Linked DNA regions of Homo sapiens: region 2 is linked to region 1. The links come from fine-mapping of genetic effects on gene expression. A gene starts in region 1. The other region holds a variant in brackets. All regions are shown on one strand. Distances are from middle to middle. Region 1 holds the start of CD99L2 (CD99 molecule like 2). Region 2 overlaps CD99L2 (CD99 molecule like 2).

Region 1 (5,378 bases):
GGTGGGAACAAGGGAGTGGTGTGTAGACGAGGCAGGCTTGGGCAAGAGTGGGTCCCTGAACCCATGTGCATTGGCAGTGGGGAGTATAGATGATGTGTGGGGGCGGGGAGCACAGATAATGGCTTTGAAAAAATTTTTTTAATAATAATTTTTTTTCTCCTGGGAAATACACTTCCAAACTAAGTTGGGGAGGTGCTCCCAGATCATAGTTTTTAAGTGTACAATTTCCTGTATGTAAATCAACTGCATGTTTAATTGCAATTCAGCAGGATAGCAGTACCTGACTGAGAGGCTCACTAAGTTCCCAGCAGGTCTTCAGTCTGGCAGGCAAATCAGCCCTCTCTAACTCACATTAACCTAACTTACAAGAGACTGAGAGACAAACCAGGCCCAAGATAAGCTATTTTACAAAGGGAGAGGTATCTGGTAGGATAATCCATCTCGGACATTTGCAATATTTTGATTAAGGAACTATTTGTGAGTATCTTTTGGCCACAATGATAAACATTGTCCTTTTCTTTTGGTTCTTATTCCTGTGTCAGAGCAGGTCATCTATGTTCATTTTGCGCTTTAGAGGAGCACACTCTTAAGGTCCCATATCATCACCTGCTAATGTTCATCCTTGCCATGGTTCAATCTGCTAGAACGGAGGTCAGTAAACTTTTTCTGTAAGGGTTAGACAGTAAATATTTTAGGCTTTGTGTGCCCCATGGTCTCTATCACAACTGTTCAACTCCACTGTGGCAGCACAAAAGCCACCATAGGGAATACAAAAATCAATGGGCGTGGCTGTGTTCTCATAAACTTCATGAACCCTGAAATTTGAATGTTGTATCACTTTCTCATGTCATAACATTCTTTTGATTTTTTTCAACCATTTAAAAATGCAACCACTACTTTTAGCTGGAAGGCTGAACAAACAGGTGGGAGTAGGATTTAGCCCACGGGGTGTAGTTTGAGAACTATTCTTGAGCTAGAAGACAGTCTTATTGCATATGGCATTGTAGCACCTTTAGCAGCTAGAGTTCCAGTTGAGTGTGACTGTCCACTGCATATTGATTGACATGGCCTCAAACTTAAGAGGTTACATGCTTCTCACCTCCTCAGTGTAGATGAGTGTGTATGCATCAGGGTTTACCCATCAGATCCTGGAAGACTCCTAAAGACCAGAAAATCTACTGCCCTCCAGGTACAGATGGTACCACCAGGGCCTATGGAATGGCTCAGGGCACTTAGTAGCAAAGGTGGGGGCATGTCCACAGCCTGGAATAGACAGTAACCTCCTGACCTCACAGTGGCCACTATTTCCTTAGCCGTTACTAGATTAACCAGTAATGGTCCCTGCCCTCTGTCACTGTGTGCAGGCTGTCCACTTTTCACCACCTCATTTAATCCTTAGCACAACCTTGTTGGGTTTAGCCAGGATTTGTACCCGGTCTGGCTCTACAGCACACATTCTTAGCCATTCACCAGCTGGGGTTCCTAGTGGTACCCTCCCCCTTTGACACATGAGACTAGACCTGGCTAACTCCCCAACCTCAAGGAACCTCCATTTTGCTGCTTTTCCCTCGTTAATAGGTGATGATACATAAGGCATTGTGAGGAATAAAAATTAAGGGTAAAATGCCTGGAATATGCCATGTGTATAGTGTGTGTTCAATAACTACCAGCTATTTCTGTTAATTCTACAGCTAGAATGGAATAATGTTCCATTCATAGAGTAATTAATGCCCTGAGCCTGGGAAGATCCACTCCTCATATGCTGTTTTGTTTCTGCAGCCCTAAGATTCAGGGCAATGGATGTAAGCCACACGGGAGATTTCGGCTCCATCTCAGGGAGACCCCACACCCCACTGTTCCTTAGGGGTTGGTGGGAGCCACTGAGGGGGGTGCCTATGGCAGCGAGGGCTGGGTTGGGGGCACAGGAAAGCTGCCGAATGGATATTGAGGGGAGGTGGTAGTAGCCGCCCTCTAAGGAGGATGTGGCCCTGGGCAGCCGGTGCCGCATAATGGCAGGGACAGGCTCACGCTACCACTCCGGAGAGCAGTAGCGCTTCCTCTTTGTCTTCGAGAGCCGGTTGCAGCTGGGGCTCTTCTAGGGAGCGTTCCCATCAACTGCTGCAGCGGGCATTTTGCTGGTCGGCACAGTATCGTATCGGAATCTGATTTCTTCGGGTCTGGGAGACGGACTCCGTTTGCGGGGGTTCATGGGAAAGGACTGCAGCGCGTTTGTCGGTCATTAAGCACGTTTTTGAGATCGACTCTGCAGATATGAACTTGCACTTTCAGCGCATTCATCAAAGCCTCGGGAGAGCTGACCCAGTCCCTACCCCCAGTCTCCCGAGCCCGCGGCGCTTCGGCTCCGGGACGCCCCCATCCTCCCCTGTCGCCCACCCGGGCGCCCCCGGCCTCGTTTTCTCGAGACGTGTCACTGCTTGTTGACCGCAGCCAGTCACGAAAACGGTCCTTTTCTTCAGTCTCCGGCCAGGGTTTCACTCCTGCAGGGAACAGCGGGTGGGGACAGAGTGCGGGGCTCCGTGCTGGACGGTGTCTGGAGGGGCCCCAAGGGAACAACCCTTCACCGGGAGAACACCAAGGCCAGAAGGGGAAGAGCCCTTCTCAAGGTCACCCGGGAGGAAATCGGCGCCCACCGGCGCTGCCGCCTCCCGCTCCCCGGCACTGGTGACTCACTGCTCCAGGTCCGCGGGGCCACCTCCGAGACTTCGGTCTCGAGGACCGAGGTGGGACAGGGTCTGCGGACCGCGCGCTGCCGCTGGACCCAGCCCAACCCAACCCAGGCCTCCCCACCCACCGGGTGCCCGCAGGCCACGCCCCTCGCCCGGAGCCCCGCCTCCAGAACGCGGCCCCGCCCCCGATACTGCAGCCTCGCCCCGCCCCCCGGCCTAACCCCAGCCCAGGCGCCCTCAGGCGCCGGCTCTCTAGCGCGCCCGACCTCCATCTTCCCGGGGCCGCGCCGCGCGCGCGCGCGGGCTTTGGGCGGGACCCTGCAGAGGCGGCGGGGCTCCTCCTCCCGCTCCTCCTCGGCCTCCCCTTCGGGCGCTCTCGCGCTAACTGTGCTCCTCCGGGGCCCTCCGCCTGCTCCCAGCCATGGTGGCCTGGCGCTCGGCGTTCCTTGTCTGCCTCGCTTTCTCCTTGGCCACCCTGGTCCAGCGAGGTAAGGCGGGCGGGGGGCGCGCGGGGACCGCGCGGGGACCCCGCCTTGTGGGCCCAGGGGTCGCTCTGCGCATGAGCGGCACGGTCCCCGCCTCTCGGGCCTGCGGTGGCTGCCACCGGCCGGCCCGGCTGTGCGAGGCGGAGCGGCGGGGGTCCGAGCCCCGGGCCCGTGGGGGTTGACTCCGCCGCGGTCGGAGTAGCCGGAGAGGAGGGGTGGGTCCCCTCCTGACGCTGGGCTGGAAACAGCGGGATGGGCCCCCTAAAATCCTGAACGAGCAGGTGTACCACTGGTGACAACAGCTGTCCCCAAGAGTTTACCTTTGAGAAAACCTTGAAGAGAGCAGTCATTTTCGAAATTTGCTGCGAGGCCACCGACAGCAGAAGCACCTGGGGAACTTCCTAGGTGGATTCCTAGCCCCTTTCATCGGGATCACAGCGGGCATGGGCTGTGGGGGGGGGGGGGGGGGGTCAGCGAGGCGTAGGTCTAACCAGCTCTCTAGGTGCTTCTGCCGTCCGCTTCAGTTTTTGAGACTTTGGTCATGTTTTGCCAAGGAGCAGGAGAGAGAAATCCCGCTGAATCAAGGAAGCACGTTTCTTAGACCCTCTGCTACTCAAAATGTGGTCCAGGGCCCAGCCGCATAGGCATCACCTGGGAGCTTGTAAGAACTGCAGCATCTCACGCCCCGCCCCCGACCTACTGAGTCTGATTCTGCATTTCAACTAGATCCGCGGGTGATTCTCTGGCACATTCAAGTTTGAGAAGCATCTTAGTAGAATAAATGCAGTCTGTGGTTAAAAATAGGGTCTTAAACATGTACCAACAGAATCTTCTTACACTTATTTATATCCTATGTCCCCATCAGAAAAAGGGATTAAGGGAAACACTGTAATTGAACGTGAATTATGCTCCAAGCTTCCTGACAATAGAAGCGAACCCAGCTGGTGGAAAATATGTGAGCTCAGGAAACACACACACACACACACACACACACACACTTTGTCCTAGTACTGAGTTCTAGTAAGATTTATGTCACATAAAGGAACACTGGAAAACAGTGGATGGTACTAGCCAAGCCACTTTTGCAAAAGATGCAGAAATGTTTTTCATGTGGGCAACCCACCTGGAGTTGATTCACGAAGAGCCATTTAACATTCTGCAGAGGTGCCAGGCTCTGTTCTAGGAACTGATGATGCGGTAGTGAACAAAATTGAGACTGTCTTCATGGAGCTTACATCCTGGTCCGGGCAGAAAACAAGCCCAACATTGAAATCTATATATATTGTCAGTGCTATGGAGAAAAATAAAGGAAGTTACAGGGGTAAAGAGTTGTTGAATTTTCTTTTTCATTTTCCCTTTGGGATAAAATTTTTATTTTGTTTACAATGCATTTGTAGGAAAATGTATGATCATTTGATTGACTTGCATCTAATGACATGGAAATCTTGAAAGTAGAAGCACAAAAAAAGTTAGAAAAATGATACTCCCTTCAAAGCTGTCTTCTGAAAGTCTTCAACATGGTGTGCCCGTTGAGAAGGTGGGGAATAGAAATGATTGGGTCTCAGATTTGCACGTTACAATTGTTGATTTAAGAGGTGGTAGAGGAGACAGAAACAGTACATCTGTTTTATAGATGAGGAAACAGAGGCACAGAGAGGTGAAGTAACTTGCCTTAGGTCACACAGCGATTGCCAGAATTATGATTTGATGCAAGGCTTGTCTGACTGCGCAGTCACTGCCTTTAAGCCCTAGGCATATGCCCTTGCACCTGGAGGTACCCCACTTCGACTACTTAGGGACCATGGGAAAATGAGTTCCCCGAACTTGTTTGATCATCCATATGATGCCTGACAATCACAAAGGTGTTTTGAGGGGACCAGGCTTAGATCTACAGCCTTGCTACCAGCTACCATCTCCTGAGTTCTTCCTGTGTGCCAGGCACTTCACATATATTGCTTTAAATTGCCTCGACAATTTTGCAGGCTAGATATTATCACTGGCTTTCAGATGAGGGGGCCCTGGTCATATAGCTCAGAAGACATAGAGCCAGGATTCAACCCAGATAAGACTGCTACCCAGTTATCTTTTATTGTTTAAATTATTTTTAATTAATTAATTAATTTTTTTGAGACGGAGTCTAGCTCTGTTGCTCAGGCTGGAGTGCAGTGGCCTGATCTCGGCTCACCGCAACCTTCGCCTCCTGGGT
Region 2 (5,378 bases), 45 kb after region 1:
GAAGCTTTTGAATGTATTTTGTCATTCTTTCAATGAATTCTTCACTTCCAGAATTTCTGTTTAGTTCATTTTTATATCTGTCTCTGTGGTAAATTTCTCATTTATATCCTGAATTGTCTTACTGATTTCTTTGTTTTGATTTTTGGAATTCTTTTGTATCTCACTGAACTTCTTTAGAATCAATGATTTGAATTCTTTTTCTGGGATTTCATGAATTTCTTTTTTATTGGGGTTTCTTTTTGGAGAATTATGGTATTCCTTTGGCGTGTCATACTTCCTTGCATTTTCATGTTTTCTGTGTCTTTACATTGATGTCTGATCTGTTTTCTCTCACTATAGTTTGTTTTCTAGAGTTTTATAGAAATGGGATCACACAGCGTGTAGTCTTTATTATTATTATTATTATTATTATTATTATTTTAGCCTGGCTTCTGTCACTCAGCATAATTATTCTGAGATTCATTCATGTCATTTTGTATGTCCATCATTCATTTCTTTTCCTCTCAGATGAGGAAAGCCTCCTCTGGAACATTTTGGTGTTACTGAAAAATGCTGGGCCAGGTGACTTCATGTAACAAGCATGCTGAGTGCCCAGTCGGCATGTGGTACACCTGGCCTTGCCTTAGGTGCTGTGGCCTCAAGCCTCTCAGACCTCCGTTCTGTAGAGAAGTTAGCCATGAATGGAAGTTAGAATATTCTGTTTGCCAAGAACCACCACAGGAATGTGGTGTGATACACAGGAGGAAATTGTCCTCTGTCTGGTGGGGTGGGCTGAGGCTTCCTAGAGGATATGATGTTCAATTTAGGCAATAACTATCCTTGGGCATAAAATACAAAGAAGGACGCTTCAGACCCAGGAAATGGCAGATGCCAAAGTGTGGGCAAGGTTTGTCCTTCAGGGAATCACCACAGCCAGGGCATACAGAATGTGTGCAGTGGGGAATGATAGGGAAGAATTTAAAAGTGGCAGGTCAGGGCCAGACTGGGGAGGGACTTGTGTGCCAGGCCCATGAATTTGGATTTAAGTGACTGTATGAGTTTCCTGGGGCTGCCATTACAATGTACCACAAATGATGTGATTCAAAACAACAAAGATGCATTCTCCCACAGTTCTGGAGCCTAGAATTCAGAGATCAAGGTGTTAGCAGGGCACAATCCCTCTGATAGCTGTATGGGAGGGTCCTTTCTTGCCCCCGTTAGCTGCTGGTAGCGATCCTTGGTGTTCCTTGGCCTGCAGCTACATCACTTCAATCTCTGCCTCCATGTTCACATGGAGTTCTCCCTTGTGTGCCTCTATCTTTTGCTCTTCTTATAAGGACACCAGTGATATGGTTTGGATTTGTGTCCTCAGTCAAATCTCATGTCTCATTGTGATCCTCAGCATTGGAGGAGGGACCTGGTAAGAGGTGATTTGATCATGGGGACGGATTTCCCCCTCATTGTTCTCATGATAGTGAGTGAGTTATCACGAGATCTCATGGTTTAAAAGTGTGTGGCACTTCCCCCCTCACAGTCTCTCTCCTGCTCCACCATGTGAAGATGTGCCTGCTTCCCCTTTACCTACCACCATGACTGTAAGTTTCCTGAGGCCTCCCCAGCCATGCTTCCTGCATAGCCTATGGAACTGTGAATCAATTTAACCTCTTTTCTTCATAAATTATGTAGTCTCAGGTAGTTCTTTATAGCAAGGCAAGAATGGACTAATACAACCAGCCACACTGGATATGGGACCCACTCCACTCCAGTATGACCTCACCTTAACTCATTACATCTGTAGTGACCCTATTTCCAAATAAAGTCACATTCACAGGTACCAGGTGTTCAGATTTGAACATTTCCTTCTGGGAGACACAGTACAAACCACAGCAATAACCAGTCATGCACCAGTCAGTAGTGATTGTGCATGGCAGCAGGTGTTACTTCCATCTTACATATGGAGAGCACAGAGCAGCAAAGTCACTTCCTCACGATTGCTCAGGTTCCTGGCAGAGAGGCAGATGTCTTCTTTAGGCCATCTGTCTGTTTCCATGGGTCCCCTTTCCTCCCTTATTGTACCAGCTGCAGTGAACCACCGGGGGGAGGGGGGGCAGCAGGCAGCCACAGGGAGCCATGAAGGCTATGTTAGTTTCCTAGAGCTACTGTCATGAAATGCCACATAATCGGGGGCCTCTGCAGCAGGTATGTATAATCTCATGATTCTGGAGGCTGGAAATCTGAGGTCAAGGTGTTGGCAGGGTTGGTTCCTTCTGAGGGTTGTGAGACAGAATCTGTTCCAGGCCGCTCTTCTGAGCTTATCAGTATCCATCTTCTCTCTGTGTCTCTTCACATTGTCTTCTCTCTCTGTGTGCGTCTGTGTTCAAATGCCCAAGATAGCAGTCATAACGAATTAGAGCCCACCCTAATGACTTCATTTTAACTTGATTACCTCTGTTAAGACCCTCTCTCCAAATATGGTCATATTCTAAATTAATAGGAGTTAGGATTTCAATGTATGAATTGGGAGGGGGCACAATTCAGCCCATAACAAAAAGTATAAGGCATCATTCTTTGCCTATGCTAAGGAAAGACTTTGTGGGTTAGCTGCCAACAAGTCCCCAGCCAACCAGCACCCAGGGAATTCCTAAGCAGTTTTGCATCTTGTTATGGGTAGCAATAATTAAATGACCCAAAGTGGAGGCAGACAGAGTAGGCAGGTAAAACAGACAGGATAATTTCAGATTAAATTATTTCAAGAGTGGCTTGCTATTGGGAAAAGCACTTGGTGGGCCGCTTGTTTTACGAGTAGAGCGAAAGTTGAAGTATGCATTCTCTGGGCCCAGGCTCTGGGCTCAGGACTAGGACAAGAAAGAGGACTGGTCTCCTCACTGCCCCATGGGCTCCTGTTATGTGGGGGTTGCAAGAGCCAAGCTGATGATATTACACCTGGTGTTTTGATGGTGTGGAGGGGACACATCAGAGAAGGGCTCCCAAAGGAGGTACATCTTGCCTATCTGACTGTAACTTCATAGCTCATTAGCCATTCTCTGCTACTTGGATTTTTCTCCTCCTTTTTTGTCATATCATACTGGAACATCTCTCAGGCATATCCTTCTCAGGTATGTCTCTGGGATTGGACCTTCATGGTAATAGCAGTGATTGCCAAATGGGGGACTGAACACAGATTTGTTATTACTCTTGAATGGTTTGAACATGGTGCACTGGATTGTTTCAGCTAAATGGGGCTTGCATTGCTGCTTGTGCTGTAGAAAAGGCTTATCACTTCTGAAGTTCGTCTTCCCAAGGGAGTTTCGTTGTGCTTTT[T/A]TATCATTAAAGAGATTATAGTCGCAGACCTGTGCCAACCAGCTGAGTGACCTTGAGAAGACCCCTTCTTGCTAGGTCTATTTTGGCAGAGCTGTAAACTAGGAGAACTGACTGGCCTTGACTGCTGGAAGCTCCTAGGGGAAGGGGAGGACTGTGCACGCTTATCGAACACTATGCTTTACCTGTGCCAGCTCACTGAGTCCTCACAAGAGCCCGATGCAGCAGGGACTGTTTTATCATCTTCATTTTACAGGCAAGGAAACTGAGGTGCCCAGCAGTGAAGTGGGTGGGTGGGGGGTTTGAGGCAGGACTGTCACCCAGATGATCTGATTTTAGCATGTGTGCTCTTTGCTGCCCCACCACCACACAGCATGGATGTCAGAGCAGGTTACAGTGTTCAGAGCTCTTCTTCCTAAATAATTTCCAAATATGTGTGGGTAAAACTTTTCCATTTCTTGGCTTCATCCTATACACGTATCATTTCACTTGCTGGAGTATGTCTAGGTGCACTTACGTGTGTTCTTGTGTCTGTCTGAAGGTGCAAGTCTGGGTGACACGGCCTAAAGTGGCTGTGAATGGTGGGGTAGTAGTCCCCTGTATACCTCCCTGAGGACTGGGAGTCAAGAGGGGTCAGTGATAAGCAGCAGGATCGTGCAGCATGAATGGATTTCAGAAACTTCCGTGGTGATTGCTTATTGTATTTTACTGTCAAAGTAGTCATTCCACTCCTACATATAGACCCAAGAAAACTGAAAACCCGGCTGTACATGTTCACAGAGCACTACTTATAATTATAGCAAAAAGTGAAAGAAAACCCCAAATGACCATCAACTGATGAATGGATGAACAAAATATAGTCTACTCATTCAGTGGACTTTTTTCAGCCATAAGAAGGAAGGAAATTCGGATCTATGCTCCAACATGGATGAAGCTTGAAGACATGCTGAGTGAAAGAAGCCAGTCATGAAAGAGCATGTACTGGATGATTCCATTCATCTGAGGTGACCAGAGCAGGCAAATCTATAGAGACAGAAAGGAGATTAGTGGTTGCTGGGGGCTGGGGGAGGGATGATGAGGAGGATGGACTGTTTAATGAGTCCGGGTTTTCCCTTTGGGGTGATGGAAATGTGGAAAATGATAGGTGATGGTTACACAACATTGTGAATATACTAGAAATCACTGAATTTCACACTTTCAACAAAGCTGTTCAAAAAGGAGTCTGAGGTGCCCAAGCAGAATTTAGTGAAGGGAAGAGATGGGAGGAGTCTTCCGGGCAGAGGGACCCCTGAGGGCCCTGAGGTGGGATAGAGCCTGCTGAAGTTTAGCAACCAAGTGAAGTCCAGAGGTCCAGGGTGTGATGGGGAGCTGTCATCCTGTGCTCAGCCATTGTCCTTACAGGTTTGGAAAACAACCACAGCTCCCCAACTGGCCTCCTACAAACAAGTCTCCACACAACAGAGCGAACTTCTAAAAATGTTGTTTTGGCCAAATGCACTTCTGCAACTCCAGAGTTGGCCCCTTTTAGTGTAAGTTCACCACCCTGGCACACCTTCCTTAACTACCCAGCATAAAGTGGATTTTCACTCTGGAGTAATGATGTGGAGAAGAGTTCTTTCATCCAAGCAGTAGTGAACAATTTAAATGCTTGAAACAGTAAAACAGATGATGGTTATTGGCTGTTGTGGTCAGTAGACTAATGTTCCCTCCCTGCTCAGAGGTCCACATCCTAATCTCTGGGACCTGTGAATATGTGACGTTACATGGCAAACGGGACTTTCAAATAGGGCTAAGTTATGGATCTTAAGATGGGAAATTGTCCTGGATTATCCAAGTGGGCCCAATGTGATCAAAGGGGGCCTGATATGTCAAAGAGGGAGGTAGATGTGATTATAGAAGCAGGGTTTGGAGTGATATACTTTGAAAATGGAGAAAGAGCCATGAGCTAAGTAAGGAATGCAGGTGACCTCCAGAAGCTGGCAAAGGCAAGGAAATGGATTGGAAGCTTCAGAAGGAACACAGCCTGCTGGTGCCCCGGTTTTAACCCAGGGCCACCCATTTTAGACTTCTGATCTCTGGAA

What was found. PIP is the estimated chance that this variant, and not a neighbour inherited with it, causes the effect. A credible set is the group of variants that fine-mapping cannot tell apart.
Region 2: its variant is the best candidate, but not a certain one, in a credible set for the expression of CD99L2 in lung (TOPMed, PIP 0.66).

What each region holds. Positions count from the first base shown.
Region 1 is chrX:150,896,319-150,901,696 of GRCh38, reverse strand. It overlaps CD99L2 (CD99 molecule like 2), which reads left to right and starts at 3,029. Exons shown (of 11, transcript NM_031462.4): 1 at 3,029-3,175. The coding sequence starts at 3,109. RefSeq lists a silencer at 2,745-3,354.
Region 2 is chrX:150,851,611-150,856,988 of GRCh38, reverse strand. The region is part of intron 1 of CD99L2 (CD99 molecule like 2); the gene reads left to right. Among named protein-coding and RNA genes, the nearest start is that of CD99L2, 44 kb to the left of the region's middle. The variant T/A (reference allele first, on the strand shown) is at 3,301.